Homo sapiens: one gene and its partners. The protein of the gene in region 1 purifies or fractionates together with the protein of each later gene. This does not show direct contact. Each region holds a gene or a part of one and is shown in the gene's direction. Other genes may lie near its edges. The genes, in order: MTHFD1, ALDH18A1 and PFKL.

Region 1 (3,745 bases):
TAACCTCCACTTCCTGGGTTCAAACGATTCTCCTGCCTCAGCCTCCCAGGTAGCTGGGACTACGGGCATGCACTACTATGCCCGGCTAATTTTTGAATTTTTAGTAGAGATGGGGTTTCGCCATGTTGGTCAAGCTGGTCTTGAACTCCTGACCTCAAGTGATCTGTCCACCTCCACCTCCTAAAGTGCTAGGATTACAGGTGTGAGCCACTGCGCCCCCGCTGGCGCTTTGCTTTTTCTTTACAGTCTTCCTCTCATTAGCATGTTTCCCACCCTGCTGAGAATGCTATCCCTGACTCGTCCTCTTCTATTATTATTCTCCTTTTATGCCTTCCTGGGAGCTCGGACATCAACAAAGTTCAGCATTCCAGATTCCTTCTCTACCTGCTCTACTCTGTGGGAAACTGGGTACTTACATGATGGATTTAGTTGCCAAATTATCTTTCTTTGGAAGTAACAGCCCCTTTTCTCCCTCACGGGGAATTCTAAGTTTGCAGCCTGAATTTGACAACCGGGGGAAGGTCTGAGAGTTAGAGACAAGTATCTGTTCTTTGTGGGTATTTATTCACTTACTCAACAAGTAGCTGTATGTGTCCCCTAAGCCAGGCAATCTTCAAAGCTCTGAGAGTCTAATAGTGAACAAAACAGCCCAAATCCCTACCCTCATGAAACTTGCATACTGATGGGTAGAGACAGACATTTAAATAGGTGAAACACATTGTGAGCTGGTGGGAAGCACAAAGAGAACACCAGAGCAGAAAAGAGGGACAGGAGTTTCTGTGGTATGGTGGCTGCAATTTTAAATATGGGAGTCATAGTCTTTGTAAAAGTGACTTACGGGCAAAGACTTGAAGGAGGTGGAGCCTTAAGCCTGCCAATGTTGTGAGGGAAATAGCTCCTGACCAAAAACACAGCCTGTGCCATAGACCTTTGTCCTCACCAGTTACTAACTTACTGCTTTGGGGGGTCAATGGCAATGGCCCTGTGAGAAGCTGACCGAGTGGAGGCTCCTGAGTAGAGGAACCTGACCCTGCCCTGGGCAGAAGGGTGGTGTCTTTTAAAAGATTATGCAAAGTGGGAGAAGGATGTGCATTAGTGTTGGAAGACCCACCTTGCTTTGTAGGCAAGAAAGCATAGTTGTTCTATAAGTGGGCCTTTCAAAGGGGGGCTTACTACATTTATATGATTTGTTTGGTTTTTCCTTCCCTTAGTTTGCTATAATTAAGCCTGCTCTCTCCATTGGTGGCATTTTTCTTGATTAAGTCTCCTTTCTAAAGAGACTGGTTGTGAAGAGGCAGATGGTTTGAGTAGGTGCTGCGAGTGTTTGCTGGCCAAGTGCAGGGCAAGTTGGGTATATTTGTAAGCTCGCTGTGGATGGTAGCTCCAGAGCCTAAGCACGGTGCTGCCTCCTCTGTGCATCACTGGGTCATGCAATTTACCTCTGTGCCTTAGCTTCTGTATATTGGGGTAGTAATGTCACCTAACTCATAAGGTTGTTAGAATTAAATGAGTTTAATACCTATAAAGCATTTAGAGAAGTTGTTGGTACATGGTAAGTTTTAATAAATAGGTACTTAGAAAGTACTCATTGAATAAAAAAGTGATGTTTGTGTTTATCCAGGCTGTACCTTTGGGAGCTGGCTTATAATCTTGAGACTTAAAATTAGAATTTATCCTAGTGATCAAAGATAAAAGTTTGGAACCTTGGCTGTACATTTAGCTACAGGGCTAGAAGAACTGTTTTTGTGAAAATAATTTGCTTACCATAGTGAAGGGCAGGTCTTCTTGGTTACTAAGTTAACATGGATAAGACTTTTACTTTGTCCTGTAGATTAAATACATGTAGGCCCTTTTGTGCTTAAAAAGATTTGTCTGGGCAGGGCGTGGTGGCTCATGCCTGTAATCCTAGGACTTTGGGAGGCCCAGGCAGGAGGATCACCTGAGATCAGGAGTTGGAGACCAGCCTGACTAACATGGTGAAACCCCATCTCTACTAAAAATACAAAATTAGCTGGGCATGGTGGCCCATGCCTGTAATCCCAGCTACTCCAGAGGCTGAGACAGGAGAATGGCTTGAACCTGGGAGGAGGAGGTTGCAGTGAGCCAGTGAGCCAAGATGGCGCCATTGCACTCCAGCCTGGGCAACAAGAGCAAAACTTCATCTCAGAAAGAAAAAAAAAAAAAATTTGCCTGTAATGAACTCCAAAGTGCAGGTTGCTCAAAAGTTACATGGAAACTTGACTGTCATAGCTGGATTGATTCTGGAAGCCTGTGCAGGAGAGGTCGGAGTTCCAGAGAGGCTGGGACCTTCAGCTAGGACCCCAGCCAGGCTGTTGGGCAGGTTGCAGCGATAGTGCAGCAGAGCCCAGAGCTGGCAGCCAACTACTATGGTCATGGCACCTGATTGGGGATGTGGTTTGCAAATAAGTGTCTGTCCTTGTCCATCAGGGGAGTTGGGATCAGGCAGTTTGGGATTTGGGTAGTGGGGTTTTGAGCAGAGGTCTGTGGTTCCCTGTTACATCCCCTATTTGCATGAAGAATCTTCTAGAAGGAAAGCTGGCCTAGTACAGAGGAGGGTCCTTGGAGTGGAAGCAAATGGCTCCCTTCTCCTCTAATTGACTCAGTAGAGGTTGGTAGAATAGAGGTTAAGGGGCAGGGATGCTTGTGTGGCCTTGGAAAAGTTAGCTTCACTTTCCTTTCTGTGCAGTAGGGATGATGAGAACTGTCTACTTCCTGACGTTGCCCCAAGGATTAAAAGAATGTAAGACTCTCAAAACAAGCTTCTTTGACGTCCCATCCACAGTGCAGAAGGCCCCCATTACCCCTGCACTGTGCGGTTGGCTCTCCTTTGCACCCCTTAATTGACCAAAAAGCAGCTTCTGTCACCCTGTAAATCCTTGACCTTGAAGAAGTGGGTGGCTAAAGGTGCCACAGTCAAGATTCCTCAGCCACTCGGCTACTACCCTTACCCTCAATTTTGCAGTTTATGACACTTTAGCCAGAAGCTAAGTGACTTGCCCAGGTGTTCCAAGGTAGGTGGCAGAGGCTCGATGGTGCATTTCTTTCCCTACCATGGGCTTGTCATTGGCTTGCTAGAAGGAATTGCAAACTTCTACCCTCCAGCAGGAGACACCCTGGGTTTGGTTCTCCCTGAGGCCTTTCCATTGTGAGGAAATCATTCCACCCATCAGTCTGGTTGGGAAGCACCCAAACAGATTCTCTTCAAAAAGTCATTTTTGAAGTTATAGTCCAATTTTGACTGGTTAGAGACAGGTCAGACCTACTTACTTTGCTGGCTAAGCTTTTTTTTTTTCTTTGCCCCTCACCACAAGCCTGGACGGGAGACGTACTGCTTGGTATCTGGTGCTTGAGAGGTCCCAGGAGATAAGGGAGCATTTCTGTGAAAGGTTTTGCCAGAGCCTGTCAGGAACTTAATCTTGACTGCAATGAATGACTTAACATTATAAGTGATCTTTGGGTTTAGGTGCCCAAATACCAGTCCCTCCTTAGTAAGCAGCCTTTTAGACCTAACCTTTTCTACCTAAGGTTTTGTTCAGTCTTTTTGAAAAGCAGGAAGGCCAGGTCCTTGTGAGGCTTTTCTCATTACAAGCTCTTGGCAGGTTCTTCCCTCCAAGTGGAGAACCCTTACCTTCCCCATTCTTTCTACCTTCCCCTCTGATGATCCAGAGGGCTGCAAGGGACCTAGAGCTGTTCATTGGAGCCCTAGTCAGCTCTAGCGGCCAGA
Region 2 (3,745 bases), on another chromosome or scaffold:
TGTAAGTTTAGGATACCAGCCAGACCCCTCTCCTGTCATGTCCTACTGCAAGTAGCCTCTTTTCACGGGGTGTCTCACACCTCTGCATATATCATTCCCTTATTCCCTCTTCCTCATATGATCCTGTACTCCTCTCCTCTTTTAGGTAAACTCCTTACTTCTAGTGCTTCAAAGCACAATTTGAATATCAACTCTTTTTAAAGCCATTGTATTAGTCTGTTTTCACACTGTTACAAAGACATACCCAAGACTGGGTAATTTATAAAGAAAAGAGATTTAGATGATTCACAGTTTCACATGGCTGGGGAGGTTTCAGGAAACTTACAATCATGGTGGAAGGGGAAGAGGCAAGTCTTACATGGTGGCAGGCAGGAGAAAGCAAACCAGTGAAGGGGGAAGAGTCCCTTATAAAACCACCAGATCTCATAAGAACTCACTATCACAAGAACAGCATGGGGGAAACAGTCCCATGATCCAATCACCTCCCATCAGGTCCCACCCTCCATAGGTGGGGATTATGGGAATTACAATTCAAGGTGAGATTTGGGTGGGGACACAAAGTCAAACCATTTCAGCCATCCCTGAATGTCTGGCCATCCCATTCTTTAGTATTCATCACATGGTATTGTAATTATTTGCTCATATATCTCTCTCTTCCATAAGGCTGTGAACTCAGCTATGTCTTCTTCCACACCCAGGGAATGCTTGGCTGTCTCAGTCCATTTTGTGCTGCTAAAACACAATAACACAGACTGGATAATTTTTAAATAATAGAAATTTATTTCTCACAGTTCTAGAGGCTAGGAAGTCCAAGATCAAGGTGCCAGCATCTGGTGAGGGCTTTCTTGCTGTATCCTCACGTGGTGGAAGGGCAGAAGAGCAGAAGAGAACACCCACCTCCACAAACCTTTTGATAGCAGCATTAATCTATTCATGAGGGTCACTCTATTCATAAAGGTGGAGCACTCTTGACCCAAATGCCTCCCATTAGGCCCCACCTCCCAATATTCTTGCATTGGGAATTAAGTTTCCAACATATGAATTTTGGGGGACATATTCAGACCATAGCAGTAGCCAGTGTTTAATAAACAAGAAAATGAATAAATAGGCTTAGTAGTGTTATCAGGGACGACAGAAGGGCATGATGCCTTTCTGTGCCCAACCTCCTATCAAGTGCTGCCCTCCCACCACCCAGCACTATGTGCCTATGCAGGAATGTGTCCTTTGAGCAAAATACAGCAAGGAAAGAGGGAGAAAAATCTGTGTTTTCACTTTTTTTCTTTTTCTTTTTAAGAGGTGGGGTCTTGCTGTGTTGTCCAGGCTGGATTTGAACTCCTGGGCTCAGGTGGTTCTCCTGCCTCCACCTACGAGTAGCTGGGACTACAGGCACACACCACAGTGCCAGGTTTTTGTGGTCTCTCTTTAAAGGTGAGTCTGCATTCACCTTTGGAATAGTTCTAGTTGTCATAGATTGAATATCCTATTTTAAAATGCAATATTCTTACAACTGCCTTTGATGAAAGGGAGTTGAGATGGGACCATTGGGGAAACCTCCAGATGACTAGGGGGCAAGTAATTTGATTGCAGTGCCAAAATGCTTCCATTTAAGGAGCCAAAGTTTGCAAATGTGTGTAAACTGATCCAATCTATTCCCAGGATGTGCCTGAAGTAACAAACATATGTAAGTTGATCCAACCTATTTCCGAGGTGTGCCCGGGATATAAATGGTTAACATTGACAAACACACCTTATGAAATCTACCAGCAGCTGAGGGTGCCAGGCACCTCTTCTACCTCCCTGGAAGGCCCAGTGGGGCGGCGTTTCGAAGGTGTCTTCGCCCCTGTCTCCGGCCCCTGTCCCCTCCCGGGACGTGGGCGTTCCCCCTGAACTCGAGTCCCGCCTCTTCCAGGCTGCCGGGGCCTGGTGGGCTGGCCCGCCACGTGGAGCGCTGGCTTGATTCTCGAAAGGGGCCTACGCCATTGCCGCGCCGCAGCTCCAGGACAGGCCCTCGCCCCACGTCAACAGCGTAGGGCCGGCTGCCCAGGTTTACTCTTACGCCACTGACGTAACGTCATCGTGCGGGACGTGGACGGAAGAAAAAAGAGAGTGAGCGAGCGCCGGAATCAGCCCGGCGTGGAGTGCGGACCCGCGGTAGTGCCAGGGGGCGAAGGCGGCGGTGGTGAGGAAGGTACGCGGCGAGCGGCGGGGATGGCTAGGCGCCCGCGTCTCTGCGGAAGCTGTTGCGCGCCCAGGCTCAAGCGCGAGGGGCGTGAGCGCCGGGCCGCTGGAGCGGGGACGCTGCCGGAGCAGGTGCCGGGGCCCGGGGATCTGGCCCATGGGTAGGTGTGGGCCTCGGCCGAGGGATGGCGGCTGCATCGGGCCGCCCAGGGCGCGCTGCAAGACCGTGGCGCGCTCCCATATGCCGGTGCGCGGCCGCCCCGGGATCTACGGATGGCTACGGGCCCTGACCTCCCCGGCCTCCCCTGGGTACACCATGTAAGGAACTGGGCCAAGTGGAGACTTCAGGCATCCGCGGGCCCCTTCTTTCCAAGAGTATGGAGCCTGCACTGGTGGGTGGCGTGGGTGGCGGTGGTGGCAGCGCCGGGATGCCGCGGGTTTTAGCTGGCCGCACGCTGACTCTCAGGGGCCTGGGTCCCTAGTTCCCCGCGGCCCTCCAGGCGTTCATCATCCCCTCCTCAAAGCCAGACTCCCTTTGCAGTATGGCATTCTGTGTATGCTGGGGTCTTCCTGTTACAGCAGGACGCACCCACATACCCCACCTCGTCCTTCCCCCATCATTATCCCCTGCCCTCTGAGGTGGTGAGGCCCATCGGATCTTTGTATTTAAGTGGTGAGCCATATACCGAGCATGTGTTTGTGGGTGAACTGTGCTGGGACTGAGGTTCACTTCTCTGTTCAAATCAGTTAGATAAGGGCATTCTGTTTAGTCTGTAAAGAGATATTGAGAAATGTCTTGAGTCAAAACGTGAAAACTTTCTTCAACTGATGATATGGAGTCTAAACACACACACAGAGTCGAGACACAGTCACACAAATCTAGACACGAGTCTAGATACACACACACACACACACACACACACACTCTCTTTGCTCCTTGGGATCAACTGTGTGCTTCTCGAGGGCGTAATACACTCTGCCTGGTCAGTCAGAGATGGTGGTACAGGGGAGAGGTCAGGAGGCTTGGTTTCTACGTCAGTCTTCAATCTCTTATTTCAGTGACCGTAGGTGTTCAGAGCTTTCAATGACTCTTGGTTAATAGAGAGGTAAACAGTCAGTCAATATATGTGTGTGATTGTATCTAATAGTGAATATTCGTTGAATTCTTTGTTCCCGTGATGGGTCTTGAAGGAAATTAAGGAAAAAATAATTGTAAGGCATCATTAGTGCCTAAAAGACAAAAGGAGGAAAACTGACATTTACTGACCATTTGTTGTACCCAAGCACTTTCCACGCATTCTCTCTTTTAATTCTCACTATAATTTCATGAGGTCCATAGTGTTAGTATCCCTGATTTATAAGTGAGGAAACAGAGGCTTAGAAAAATTGGGTAACTCTTACATATGTAACTAACCTGCACATTGTGCACATGTACCCTAAAACTTAAAGTATAATAATAATAATAATAATAATAATAAAGAAAAATTGGGTAACTCTCCACAAGACACACAGCAAGTGCAGAGCTCGAACCCAAATCTGACCAACTTCAAAGGCCTTGTTCCTCATC
Region 3 (3,745 bases), on another chromosome or scaffold:
TGGTGGATCACCTGAGGTTAGGAGTTCAAGACCATCCTGGCTAACATGGTGAAACCTCGTCTCTACTAAAAATACAAAAAATTAGCTGGGCATGGTGGTGCGCATCTGTAATCCCAGCTACTCAGGAGGCTGAGGCAGGAGAATCGCTTGAACCAGGAGGTGCAGGTTGCAGTGAGCCGAGATCGAGCCACGGCACTCTAGCCTGGGCGACAGAGCGAGACTCTGTTGCAAAAAACAAACAAGAAAAAACCCCAAAAATCAGCCAGGCGTGGTGGTACATGCCTGTAGTCCCAGCTACTCGGGAGGCAGAGGCAGGAGAATCGCTTGAACCGGGGAGGCAGAGGTTGCAGTGAGCCAAGATCCCGCCACTGCACTCCAGCCTGGGTGACAGAACGAGACTCTGTCTCAAAAAAAAAAAACAGACTTGACCAAAAAAAAAAAAAAAAAAAAAATGGCCCGGCCTGCCTATGCCTACCTTCATCTCGCCCTGGCCTGGGCACTTTTAATTCTCTGGGCCCTTTGTCTAGTGCCCCCTCCCTGCCCCTGCAGGACACCGTGCCCTGCCTTTCCCTGGCTGGTGTGTTTGGACGTTGGTTTCCTGTTATCGCAGGTGAGGACTTAGCTTCCTGGCCCGCCACGCCTCCCTGACATGGCCTCCTGTTTGGAGCCTTCAGGCTCATGCTTACATCCTTAGCTGATCATTAAACTTTGTGACCATTTCATGCTCACTGCTTTCTTGCCTGGGAGCTAATGGTGAGGAAAGGTCACTGGGAACCAGCGCACCAACCTCAGACATTGATTTTGTTCCAGCCTTTTTTCCTGGGCAGGGGTGGCTATCACCTGCTGGTAGGCAGCGGCAGGCCCACTGTCCTGCCTGCCCTCTGACTGCGGTGTCGGCGACTGCTGCCCGAGGTTTATTTTGAGAAAGAAAAGCCGATTAAAGGGCCATTAAAAAGGTCTTTTGAAGATTACAGCTTCCAATGAGGTTAACAGAGAAAATTTCCTCCTTCAGGCCGCAGCCAGTCCCGTTCTAAAATCCAGAACGTGTCCCTTTCCAGTCCCGTTCTAAAATCCAGTCCCAACAACAAAGTGGCCATGTGACATGGCCACTTTGTTCTCCTCCCAAGGGCTCAGCACAAAGCTGGGTTTTGGCAGCTTCATTGTCTCCGGGCGTCAAAGCAGGTTTTATTTTGCAGAGCACCCTGAAGACATTTGGAAGTGAGGGGTACCCTTGCTGACCCCTGATCCTGGGGCCCCTTTGCCGTTCCCAGGTCCCCTGACAAGCCCACCAGGCCCCCTGCTGAGATGGCTGTGACCCTGGGCTGACCCGCCCAGTGGCACATTGACTCCGCCTGGAGCTGGGGAGACCAGAGAGGCCCTGTGGTTGGACGGTGGCCTGGGTGCGCTGCTCCTGCCCTCTCCTTGCCCTGCCTCAGCTGCTGCCTGCCAGAGGTGGGCTTGGACCTGTGGTGGGACCAGGTCTGCAGGGAGGGCGAGGGAGGGACGGAGGCTTAGCTTCGGCCAGCTGTGGCTGAGTGGATCTCCCTCACTGCCCCCAACTCCAGTGAGGGTGGGGGACAGGGCGCTGCACTCACAGCACCACCTTGGACGCCCAGCCTCAGGCAGCAGGACTTGGCTCTGCTGACTGTTTTTGGTTGTCGGGTGCTTGGGGTGGCTCAGCTGTCTGGGGGGGGCTCGGCTGTCTGTCTCGGGGGGCTTGGCTGTCTGCGGGGGGCTCGGCTGTCTGGGGGGCTCGGCTGTCTTTCTGGGGGAGCTTGTCTGTCTGTCTGGGGGGCTTGGCTTTCTGGGTGTGTGTGGGATGCTTGCTGGGTTCCCGCCCCAGTTTCAGCTGTAGCAGCCGTGCTCCCATCTATGTGGGGATGTGAGGGAGGCACTGTTCCTTTAGAGACGGCGTTGCTTGCTCAAGTGGAGAAGCTGCCAGTGTGGGCAGCTCCAGCTCCCTGCACGCTCTGTGCTCTGCCCATTCTAACGTCTGTGCCCCTTCTTCTGGATGGCTGCCGGGCTTGGCTCTGGCCCCCCTGTTGGATCCCCTGGCTGCTGGGTGGGGAGAGGGCCACCTACTGAACCTGAGGGTGGGTCTGGGTGAGTCCTGGCTCTGCTGCCACCTGCTGGGCTCTGGAAGGTCCCTCACCCTCCCTCTGGGATCTCATTGGATTCCTGTAGTGTGGGGATGGTGGCAGATACTCTGGCTGCTACGTGAGAACAGTGTGCCGATCCCTGGGGTTTCTCAAGGCGTGGCACCTCACCTCACACCTGCTCCCTGCTGCTGAGCCCCACGCCAAGCTGGAGAGCGGATGAGAAGCATGTGTAACCAGGGTAGAGGTCGAGAGTCCTCTCGTGGGGGTCTCCATGTTCAAGGGAGCTGCCGAGGCTTGAGCAGGAGCCCCCAGCAGGTCAGCACCTCCAGCCTCTGCAAGTACAGGGGGGTGGGAGGGCAGGGGCTTTTGAGGGGCACGAGGCTTGGGGACAGAGGACCCGCATGGCTTAGGGATGGATGGCATGGTATGGGTGCTGGGAGGGAGGCAGGAAGAGCAGGGCTGGTCCCAGGGGCAAGCACAAACTCAGGCCTGTTACACGGCCCCAGACCTCACTCAGAAGGGGACCCTGGCCGCTGGCGTGGGTTTCCTCCTCTCTGAAGATTAGGTGGTCTTGGCTGCCCCTTTTGTATGAAGTCATGGATATCTTTTGAGATGGGGGCTCTCGGGAAGAAGGTGTGGGGTACATTAGCACCAGCGTTTCCTGAGTGCCGCCTCCCCCGTTAATGTCCCTCTCCAGGAAACTGGCTTTGCCAAGGCCCCCGCTGGGACAGACTGTTTCTTTCACTGCAGTCCTGGGAGCCGAGGGCAAGGGGACAGGAAAGAGGAAGTGACCTCAGAGCCTGGTGGCACCAGCATCATGTCCAGGCTGGGGGGTGAGGGTCCCTGAGGCCCTGGGGCAGGGCAGTGCTGTTCCCTGGGTGGCTGAGGCCGGAGGGGCTCTGTTCTCAGTCCCCCATCTCATTGCGGAGGAAGGAGCCCAAGCCCCTTCCAGCAGGTGCTTTCCTCAGTGCCCAGAGGTGCTCCCCGGCTTCTCCATCCCCACGCCGCAGCCTGAATGTCTGGGGTGGGGCCGGTGTGGGAGGTGCCGGCCTCTTTTCCACCTGCCCCACTTTTTATCCTGCTCTGTGGTCAAGGCCTGGCCCCGTGGCCTGTGAGTGTGGGGGCTCCGTGGCAGAGGTTGGGGCGGCGGGGTGTGGAGTTCGGGACACCCACACATGCCTGATTGCCATGCTCTGCATGGGATGTTCCCAGTTTATCTCTGGGCACCATACTCCAGGTGCTCGGAAGCTGAAGCCTAGAGCCTGCTGGGTTCACCCGAGCCTCCACCCGGGGGCCCAGGGCTGGTCCTCAAGTTTCCTGGCCTGGTGCCTCCTGAGATGGGGAGGGTGACCAGGCCTTCCCTACCCCCTGCCCTCTGAGATGGGGAGGGCGTCCGGGCCTTCCCTGACCCTTGCCCTCTTGAGATGAGGAGGGTGACCAGGGCCTTCCCCCACCACCCGCCCTCTGAGATGGACAGGGTGTCCAGGCCTCCCCTACCCCCTGTCCTCTGAGATGGGGAGGGTGTCCAGGGCCTTGCTTCTCAGCGTGGGACTGACAGGTTTGCCCTGACCTCCACAGGCATGAACGCTGCTGTCCGGGCTGTGACGCGCATGGGCATTTATGTGGGTGCCAAAGTCTTCCTCATC

What was found.
Region 2: the proteins of MTHFD1 (region 1) and ALDH18A1 purify together in Homo sapiens (affinity purification with mass spectrometry; 2 studies listed by BioGRID, with this or other methods). This does not show direct contact.
Region 3: the proteins of MTHFD1 (region 1) and PFKL fractionate together in Homo sapiens (co-fractionation; 2 studies listed by BioGRID). This does not show direct contact.

What each region holds. Positions count from the first base shown.
Region 1 is NC_000014.9:64,391,243-64,394,987, forward strand, and holds part of MTHFD1 (C-1-tetrahydrofolate synthase, cytoplasmic), read left to right. Parts: intron 1-3,745. UniProt on the Homo sapiens protein: Trifunctional enzyme that catalyzes the interconversion of three forms of one-carbon-substituted tetrahydrofolate: (6R)-5,10-methylene-5,6,7,8-tetrahydrofolate, 5,10-methenyltetrahydrofolate and (6S)-10-formyltetrahydrofolate.
Region 2 is NC_000010.11:95,655,040-95,658,784, reverse strand, and holds the start of ALDH18A1 (delta-1-pyrroline-5-carboxylate synthase), read left to right. Parts: upstream 1-2,073; 5' UTR 2,074-2,188; exon of another isoform or gene 2,189-2,496; intron 2,497-3,745. UniProt on the Homo sapiens protein: Bifunctional enzyme that converts glutamate to glutamate 5-semialdehyde, an intermediate in the biosynthesis of proline, ornithine and arginine.
Region 3 is NC_000021.9:44,303,004-44,306,748, forward strand, and holds part of PFKL (ATP-dependent 6-phosphofructokinase, liver type), read left to right. Parts: intron 1-554; exon of another isoform or gene 555-610; intron 611-1,271; exon of another isoform or gene 1,272-1,452; intron 1,453-2,169; exon of another isoform or gene 2,170-2,315; coding exon of another isoform or gene 2,316-2,414; intron 2,415-2,796; coding exon of another isoform or gene 2,797-2,932; intron 2,933-3,677; coding exon 3,678-3,745. UniProt on the Homo sapiens protein: Catalyzes the phosphorylation of D-fructose 6-phosphate to fructose 1,6-bisphosphate by ATP, the first committing step of glycolysis.